Linked DNA regions of Homo sapiens: region 2 is linked to region 1. Evidence: fine-mapped expression QTL. A gene starts in region 1. The other region holds a variant in brackets. All regions are shown on one strand. Distances are between the middles of the regions.

Evidence for each region. PIP is the estimated chance that this variant, and not a neighbour inherited with it, causes the effect. A credible set is the group of variants that fine-mapping cannot tell apart.
Region 2: its variant is the best candidate, but not a certain one, in a credible set for the expression of KLHL4 in adrenal gland (GTEx, PIP 0.80).

Annotation. Positions count from the first base shown.
Region 1 is chrX:87,515,791-87,520,194 of GRCh38, reverse strand. KLHL4 (kelch like family member 4) reads right to left here and starts at 2,393. Exons shown (of 11, transcript NM_019117.5): 1 at 1,880-2,393. The coding sequence starts at 2,301. RefSeq lists enhancers at 1,662-2,437, 2,438-3,213.
Region 2 is chrX:87,396,111-87,400,514 of GRCh38, reverse strand. No RefSeq gene overlaps it. Among named protein-coding and RNA genes, the nearest start is that of KLHL4, 120 kb to the left of the region's middle. The variant T/G (reference allele first, on the strand shown) is at 2,038.

The sequences.
Region 1 (4,404 bases):
AGGAAGATTTAGAATGGTTAAGGAGAAGGTAATAAACCATCGTATTTCAATTAATAAGATCTTCAATTTAGCCCCTCCTGCCTAAGATATCCTTGGCACACCTATAAAACCATTTCCTGTATGTATATTAAGAAAACGTTAGCTTTCCAATGAAACCATAGAATAATTAACAAGGCATTTCTTTAGAAAATAAAAAATGTCAGGAATAAAATCAAAGGATAAATGCGCTTTTTAAACTGTCACTTGATGACGCTTTAAATGTGACATTTTACCTAACATTTTTTCTAACATCTATTTTATTGTAAATATTCCCATACTAGAAAATTAATTCATGTATTCTCAAATAATTTTGTTCCAAAGTTACAGTTGGTAATTTAAATTTCCCTACAGCAGAGTTAAATTCATTTATTAATCTCCAAATTCAGCAGTTTTTTAAAAATTGTTCTTGGTGACGAGAACAAATTTGAAAGCCTGCTGAATTTAAAATTATGGACTCTATATTACTTTGAGAGTCTTATTTGTTGTACCAAATGCAACCTGCAATCCCTACAGTTATATAGCTTTTCCACGAGCAAGCACAAAATATTTAGGAAAATTTCACACATACGTGCTTTATTTCCTGAGAAGTTTATATGACAGACAATCTAACATTATTATTAATGTCATTTCACAAAGTCTTCTGCATGTTTATATTTCAACAAGACTGAGTTCCTATAAAGGCATCATTTTGCTGTAATGTTATTAGGCTGCTTCTTCTTCTGATAAACTGTTTTGAATTTATGAAAGCAAGACACTGTGAGGTTGTTTTATTGGGAAAACTTATATTAAGAAGCAAATCTGCCAGTCCTTCTTCTCTATTTTTAGGTAGAGACATAGTATGCCAGATATCCAGGTTTCCAAATAAATTAGCATGTTGAACTACTATATGATCTAAAATGCATAAAAACACTTATTTTTCTATAGTACTACTGAATATTAATTACATTGCCAATATTATCAACTGTGTCTAAAACACGTTGGGACTATAAAAATGTCTGATAGTGAAAAAGCAAAAAACAAAGAGATAAGGATACACTAGGTTAAGTTATAGTTGACAGTATTAGAGAACAGAATGTAATTTTCTTGCACTCAAACAATACCGGTGGGCATAAAAGTAAAGACAAAATCAAATGTTTTATGAACTATACCCAAACTACACTATATCGTCACTGTTTATTCAATTTTCATTTTATGTAAAAGCTGAAATGCTCCATTTCCCGCTTTAAGATCACATTGCTGTAAGTAGCATCTTATTACCTGCTTTATGTAGAATATTTTCATGCTTGCAAAAACTAGCTATGAAAGTAATACAACTTGAAATGAGTCTCCGAACGCCAAATATTCCATATTGTCACATAAAGATAACACAGTTTTAAGAGTCAATATCGCAACTATGTACTAAGGAAACAGATAAGGATGTGCTGATCAGTCACAGCTTTTATTTTGTTAAAGTTGGCCTAACTCACAATGTCAGAAAGAGTTCTCCGTGATTCATAACACTTGCACAAAGAATTGCATTTAAACATCTGAGCCACGGAGTGTATTTATAGAACATTAGTAATTACAATAAACATCTCTTAGAATTGAAACAGAATTCTTAATGAAAATAGGAGAAGTAAACTCATAACCCACCCCCCAAATTTCCGGTAATTATAAAGACGTATTCATTATTGCTGTTTTCTTTTATAAACTTAGAGGAGACGGTTTCTGAGAGACTCTGATTGGCTGAATACAAACTCAGAGATTATTATGACACTTTCTATTTAAACACTAAACATGAATTGTAGAGGATAAGTTAACTGAAGTTACGGCATTCAGTTATGCGACCAAAAACTCTTACCTTGCTGTAGAATCTTCTATATTGTCATCAGCCATCATCTCCAAATCTTGTGCGCGTTTCTCACAAGCTTCTTTGAATAAATTCTTCTCTGGAACTGATTTAGGAGTATCTTCATTTGCTTGAAAATGTACTATCAGATTATGTTGCTGCAAATTCTGAACGGCTCTCTGATGGGCAGGGGCCGGTCCTGGCACTGGTGCCAGTATATTGTGGTGGACAGGACTGTTGCTTTTCTTCAGTCCGTTTCTGTCCCGAGAGTGGCTCTTCAACCTGCCCTGAACCGGGGTCCCTCTATGCTCATATCCTTCCTGCTGAAGACAGCTTCCAGTGTTGGTGGAACCTTGAAAAGGATGACTAAACCACCTCCAGCGTAGCCTTAGGATCTGTTTCACATCAAACTCTTTCTTGCCAGACACTGACATCGTAGCAGGAGGAAAGACAAAAGCCTTCTCTCACAGAAAGGAAACGGAGCCTTTGTTATCTCTTGTTTTTCTGCCTCTTCTGTAGAACTAACAAAAGCACAAGTGCCGAGAGCAGTCTTTCTTGCTTTCTCTCCCCTCCCCCACTGCCTATGATACACTGTGAATACTTGTAGCCTTCTAGCAGAAGCAGAAGGCTGCAGCTAACAGTGTAGGTGGGAACCCATGCTGACAGGATGATGAGGTCAGACCTTAAACAAGTAAATCAGCTTACCACAGGAAAGCAGCCACCACAACACTCTCCAGCTGTTAGATTTGCAGGCTTGCAGCCCTCCTGCTTGGACTTGCAAATATCTAGCCCTGCTTCTTCAGTATCAAAGTACAGTAGCTGCAGCTGAAACCCAGGCAAGTGAGCCAAAGCGAAGTGTTTAAACTTATTTTCTTCTAGATTCCTTCTACTCACGCCTCCCCTGCTAGATTCATTTCTCAGTAGCCCACTTCTAAAAATGTGCCACTTTGTTCCATGATAATATGCGACAGAGGAATTCATTATAATCTATTTTGAGATTCCTTTTATGGAAACTTTGAAAATGGTTCATTAAGGGAAAGCATCAGTACCCTCATGCGGGTTCGTAATTAGTTTTTACAAAATTAATCTGAAAATGTGAAAGTCTCTATATGAATATTTACCTGAAAACTTGACAGATTTTAGAAACATGTAAGAAAGTATTGGTTACCCATGACCACTCACACAAACACGCCATTTGGGAATGTAGAAATGGTATTTTTAGTCTACATATGGAGGAAGAAAGCAGTGCTTTTCCAAGCTAGTTAGGTTAAAAGAGATGTCTTCTCTCAGTTACCACAGCTTGAAAATGAATAGTTCATTCTGGCTCCATGCCTGGATACAAACCTTCTTATCATGCCTTTTACTTTCACAGGCAGTGTTAAAGGTTTATTTTCTTTGTTCAAAAACCCTTATGAGAGGATGAACAGAGTATGTTTTGAATTAATTCCAAATCATCACACTGTTCAGGAATAACTGTGCCCAAAGTACTTTGAGATCTGAATCATAATCACTACTTTGTACAGATGGACATGTTTACAAAAGACAGTCATGTATCAAGAATGCATTTATCATTGACATTTTGAAATTCAGTTTGTACTTTATCCAGTTCTCATATCATGCATACAGGTGATAAAGGGGAAATTATACTGGTGTATGACTAGAAAGAACACTGAAGTTGTAAGATTTTGCTTTTAGTTTGACTTTATGGTTAATGAACTGTGTGACCTTGGACAAGTCACTTTACTTTTTTGCATCTCAATTTCTTCATATATATTATACGGAGTCTAGACAGATTTCTATGTTTTCAAAAGCACTCAGATGTGATGGATTTAAAAACAACTGAAGAGAGAATAAAATGAATCTAAGTTTTGATAGGCATTTTATCTGTGGTTTTCTTTAAATTCAATTATACCTCTCCCTTTCCCCTCTTGTTTTTGTAGGTGTGATAGTTAATTTATGCATCAACCTGACTGAGCTATGGGATGCCCAGATATTTGGCTAGTCTCGATGTTTCTGTGAGGGTATTTTTTTTTTGGATGAGTTTAACATTTAAATTGATAGACTGAGTAAAGCATATTCTCCTCTCTAATTGGGTGGGGCTCATCCAATCAGTTGAAGGCCTAAATACAACAGAAGGCTGACCTTTCCCTCAATAAGAGAGAATTACTCTTGCCTCACTGCCTTCTATCTGGAACATGGGATTTCTTCCTGCCTTTAGACTTTAACTGAAACACTGCTTCTTCCTGGATTTCAAGTCTGCCAGCATTTGCGCTGGAAATACACCATTGGCTCTCCTCAGTCTCCAGCTTGCCAACTGCAGATCTTGGGACTTGTCAGGCTCCATAATCATGTCATCTAATTCCTTATAATAAATCTGTGTGTGTGTGTGGTGTGTGTGTGTGTGTGTACATATAGAGGAAACAAACTGTAAATATCAGGCAGAATAAATAAAATGTTGTAACAGAAATGTAAATAACATGTGGTAGGAGCAAGAAGTACTAAATTATCCATTTAAGTAACTCTAAATAATACTTTTT
Region 2 (4,404 bases), 120 kb after region 1:
GGTTATGCAGGGTGTAGCCTCCCTCCCGGCTGCTTTCATAGGCTGCTGTTGAGTGTCTGCAGCTTTTCCAGGCACACGGTGCAAGCTGTGGGTGGGTCTACCATTTTGGGATCTGGAGGACGGTGGCCTTCTTCTCACAGCTCTACTAGGTGCTGCCCCAGTAGAGAATCTTTGGGGGCTCTAACCACACATTTTCCTTCTGCACTGCCCTAGCAGCGGTTCTCCATGAGAGTCTTACCCCTGCAGCAAACTTCTTCCTGGGCATCCAGGCATTTCCATACATCTTCTGAAATCTAAGTGAAGGTTCCCAAACCCCAATTCTTGACTTTGTGCACTCACAGGCTCAACACTACGTGCAAGCTGCCAAGGCTTGGGGCTTGCACCTTCTGAAGCCACAACCTGAGCTCTATGTTGGCCCCTTTCAGCCATGGCTGGAGTGGCTGGGATGCAGGGCACCAAGTCCCTAGACTACACACAGCACAGGGACCCTGGGCCCCACCCACGAAACCACTATTTTCTCCTAGGCCTCCAGGCCTGTGATAAGCGGGGCTTCTGCGCAGACCTCTGACATGCCTTGGAGACATTTTCCTTATTATCTTGAGGACTAACATTCTGTTCCTCATTACTTATGAAAATTTCTGCAGCTGGCTTGAATTTCACCTCAAAAAATGGGATTTTATTTTCTATCGCCTTGTCAGGCTGCAAATTTCTCAAACTCTCATGCTCTTTTTCCCTTTTAAAACTGAATGCCTTTAACAGCACCCAAGTCACCTCTTGAATGCTTTGCTGCTTACAAACTTCTTCTGCCAGATTCCCTAAATTACCTCTCTCAAGTTCAAAGTTCCATAAATCTCTAGGGCAGGGGCAAAATGCCACCAGTCTCTTTGCTAAAACATAGCAAGTCACCTTTGCTCCAGTTCCCAACAAATTCCTCATCTCCATCTGAGACCATCTCAGACTGCACCTTATTGTTCATATCACTATCAGAATTTTTGTCAAGGCCATTCAACAAGTCTCTAGGAAGTTCCAGACTTTCCCACATTTTCCTGTCTTCTTCTGAGTCCTTCAAACTGTTCCAACCTCTGCCTGTTACCCAGTTGCAAAGTTGCTTTCACAGTTTTGGGTATCTTTTCAGCAGAACCCCACTCTAGTGGTAGCATTTTTCTGTATTAGTTTGTTTTCATGCTGCTAATAAAGACATACCCAAGACTGGGCAATTTACAAAAGAAAGAGGTTTATTGGACTTACAGTTCCACATGGCTGGTGAGGCCTCATAGTCATGGTGGAAGGTGAAAGGCACTTCTCACATGGCAGCAGACAAGAGAAGAGAGCTTGCAGGAAAACTCCCCTTTTTAAATCATCAGATCTCACGAGACTCATTAACTATCATGAGAACAGAACAGGAAAGACCTGCCCCCTTAATTCAATCACCTCCCACCAGGTTCCTCCCATGCCCATGGGAATTGTGGAAGTTACAATTCAAGATGAGATTTGGGTGGGGACACAGCCAAACCATATCAACAAAAAACCATTAAATTATAAAATTCTTAGGTCTATAATGTTATGTCAGAAGAGTGAATGATACATTCTTAAACCTAATATTTTTCTAAGTAATTTCTAAAACTTCCACTTTTGTCCAACAGGTTAAATCTCCCTTTATATAATTGAATTAACAAACTGGCACTATTAATCACAATTGACTAGGTTACCACAATTTGTTCAGTAAAATTTTTGTTCGAAATATGAATGCCAATATGAATACCAAAATTGAAAGAAGAATATTTAGTTGGATCTGGAGTCTGCCTTTCATGAGATGTGTGACTTTGGACAAAAGCTAAGGGAGGCTTTTTTAAAAAATCCATATCCTGTATACATTGTAGCATATTGGTCCAGACAGAGAAGAGGCATTGATTCTGAATGTCTTGGCTTGAATATTAGTCCTATGACTGACTAGTGATATAACCTTGGAGAAATGATTTAATCTTTCTATGCTTTAGTTTTCTTATTATGAAATAGAGGTAATAAGAGGGTTTTGAG[T/G]ATTAAATGAGTTAATGTGTATTAAGTGATTAGAACAATACTTGGCATATAGGAATCAATAGAGAATTATTTGGTGCTATTTTTATTGTCATTGTTGATGTTATTATTATTATTATCAAACTTTGGTTGGCAGGTGAATCTGTATGGCCTTTGTAATGACTTGTAATCTACTACTTCCTCAGCCACTTTTAAAAAATTTTTAAATTATATATTAAAAAAATTATAGTTTTATATATTTATGGGATAGAAGGTGATGATATGACTTTTTAATACAACCTGGAATTATTAAATAAAGCTAATGAACCTATCCATAACCTCAAATATTTGACATATTTTATTCTAAGAACATTTGAGATTTACTCTCTAAGCAATATTGAAATGTATAGTACTGAAATATCAACTATATGCATTATGCTGTGCAACAGATCTCCACAAAAATAAAGCTTATTCCTTCTATCTAATTGAGTATTTGTCCTCTTGGATTGCCATCTCATTCCCTCCAGCCTCCGCCTTCGTCAACCCCCACTCTAATCTCTACTTTTATGAGTTTGGGTGTGTTAGATTCCACATATAAGTGGAAACATATGGTGTTTCTTTCTGTGTTTAGCTTATTTCATTTAGCATAATGACCTCCAAATTTCATCCATATTGTTAAAAATGACAGAATTTCTTCCATTTTAAAGGCTGAATGGTATTCCATCAGTCACTTTAATATCATGACATCTGGCTGTAATTTCTCTCTACTCATCTCTGTCACCACAATCCACTGTTCACTTGGCTATTCTGCTTCATTTACTGAATCACAGTTTATTAGTTTGCTAGGGTTGCCATAACAAACAGCCACCGGCTTCATGTCTTTAAAAAAAACCACAAATTTATTTTGTCACAATTCTGGAAGCTGTAAGTCCAAGATTAAAGTACCAGTAGGGGAGGTTTCTTCTGAGATGTTTCTCTCTCCTTGGCTTGTAGATTGCTGTCTTATCTCTGTGTCTGACAAAGAGTCTCCTTGACCAAACTTTAGTGACATTCCTCTGAGCCCCTTTTTTCAGCTAGACCTTGAGCTTGCCCAATTTCTTTTTAATTTTTGTCAGGCTTGCATAACGTACTTTTAGCAAGAATCCTGATTAGTCATTTAAGAGATAATACCCCACCCTTGATATCAGACCATGTTCAACATCCCCCACCTTTAATGTCTAAGTTCTTGGCCTGCATTCAGAAAGAATCCTGTTAAGTTGGTTTAGCAAGAATCTCCTTAGCATTGCCTTTTAGTAATTTTCCATCCACTGGCCCCTTCAGTCTGCTGATTGGCTATAAATCACCAACTGTTTTTAAATTTGAAATTGAGCTCAATCTTGTCTTTCCTAGTGCAATGACCTTGAAACCTTAGTGTTTTAACAAGTGTCAGAATATTTTTTCTTTAACATGGGTTCACATAGTCTTTTCTCTGTATGTATCTGTGTCCTAATCTCCTCTTCTTATAAGAGGTCACTCTAACGACCTAATTTTTTCTTAACTACATCTTTAAAGACCCAATTCCAAATGCAGTCACGCTCTGAGGTACTAGGGCTTAGGAATTTAACATATCAACTTTGAGAATAGACACAATTCAGCCCATAACATGTGTATTCTTTTTTAATGCAAATCCTCACACACTCTCAGTAATTTCAAAATCCAGGTTAACAATACATAAATCACCCTTTAGTCTCAGTTTCTTTAAACTTCTCATTTCTAATGGCCTTTTTCTCCACTCAATAGCCACCATTCTCACTGTCATACCATGAACGTTGTCATCATCCTGAACTACTGTAGTTACTAAATCACTAGTTCAAACCTCCTACTTTGATCAACATTTATCTTTCCAGGCTATTTTCTAAACTCTTCCTATTATTATTCTTGTCCCTTATCAGGACTAGCATTCTAATGACCTAATTTTGTATCCATCATCCTTCTTTTGTTTTCATTTTATTCTCTATTTCAGATGCTGTGGTTTGTTATTTTAATTACTCTCATGCCAGTACCTAAACCTCCTCTGTCATTTGTTATATGTACCTGAAAAATCTCTGACCCAGGTAGCCAAATGTTGGTAAAAACACATAATGGAAAATTTTCTTTCTTTACTTTTTTCTTTTCTTCTTTCTTTCTTTCTTTCTTTCTTTCTTTCTTTCTTTCTTTCTTTCTTTCTTTCTTTCTTTTTCTTTCTCTCTCTCTCTCTCTTTCTTTCTTTCTTTCTTTTTCTTCAGAGTCACTCTCTGTCACCCAGGCTGGAGTGCAGTGGCATGATCTCGGCTCACTGCAACCTCTGCCTCCTGGCTTCAAGCGATTCTCCTTCCTCAGCCTCCCAAGTGGCGGGGATTACAGGTGTCTGCC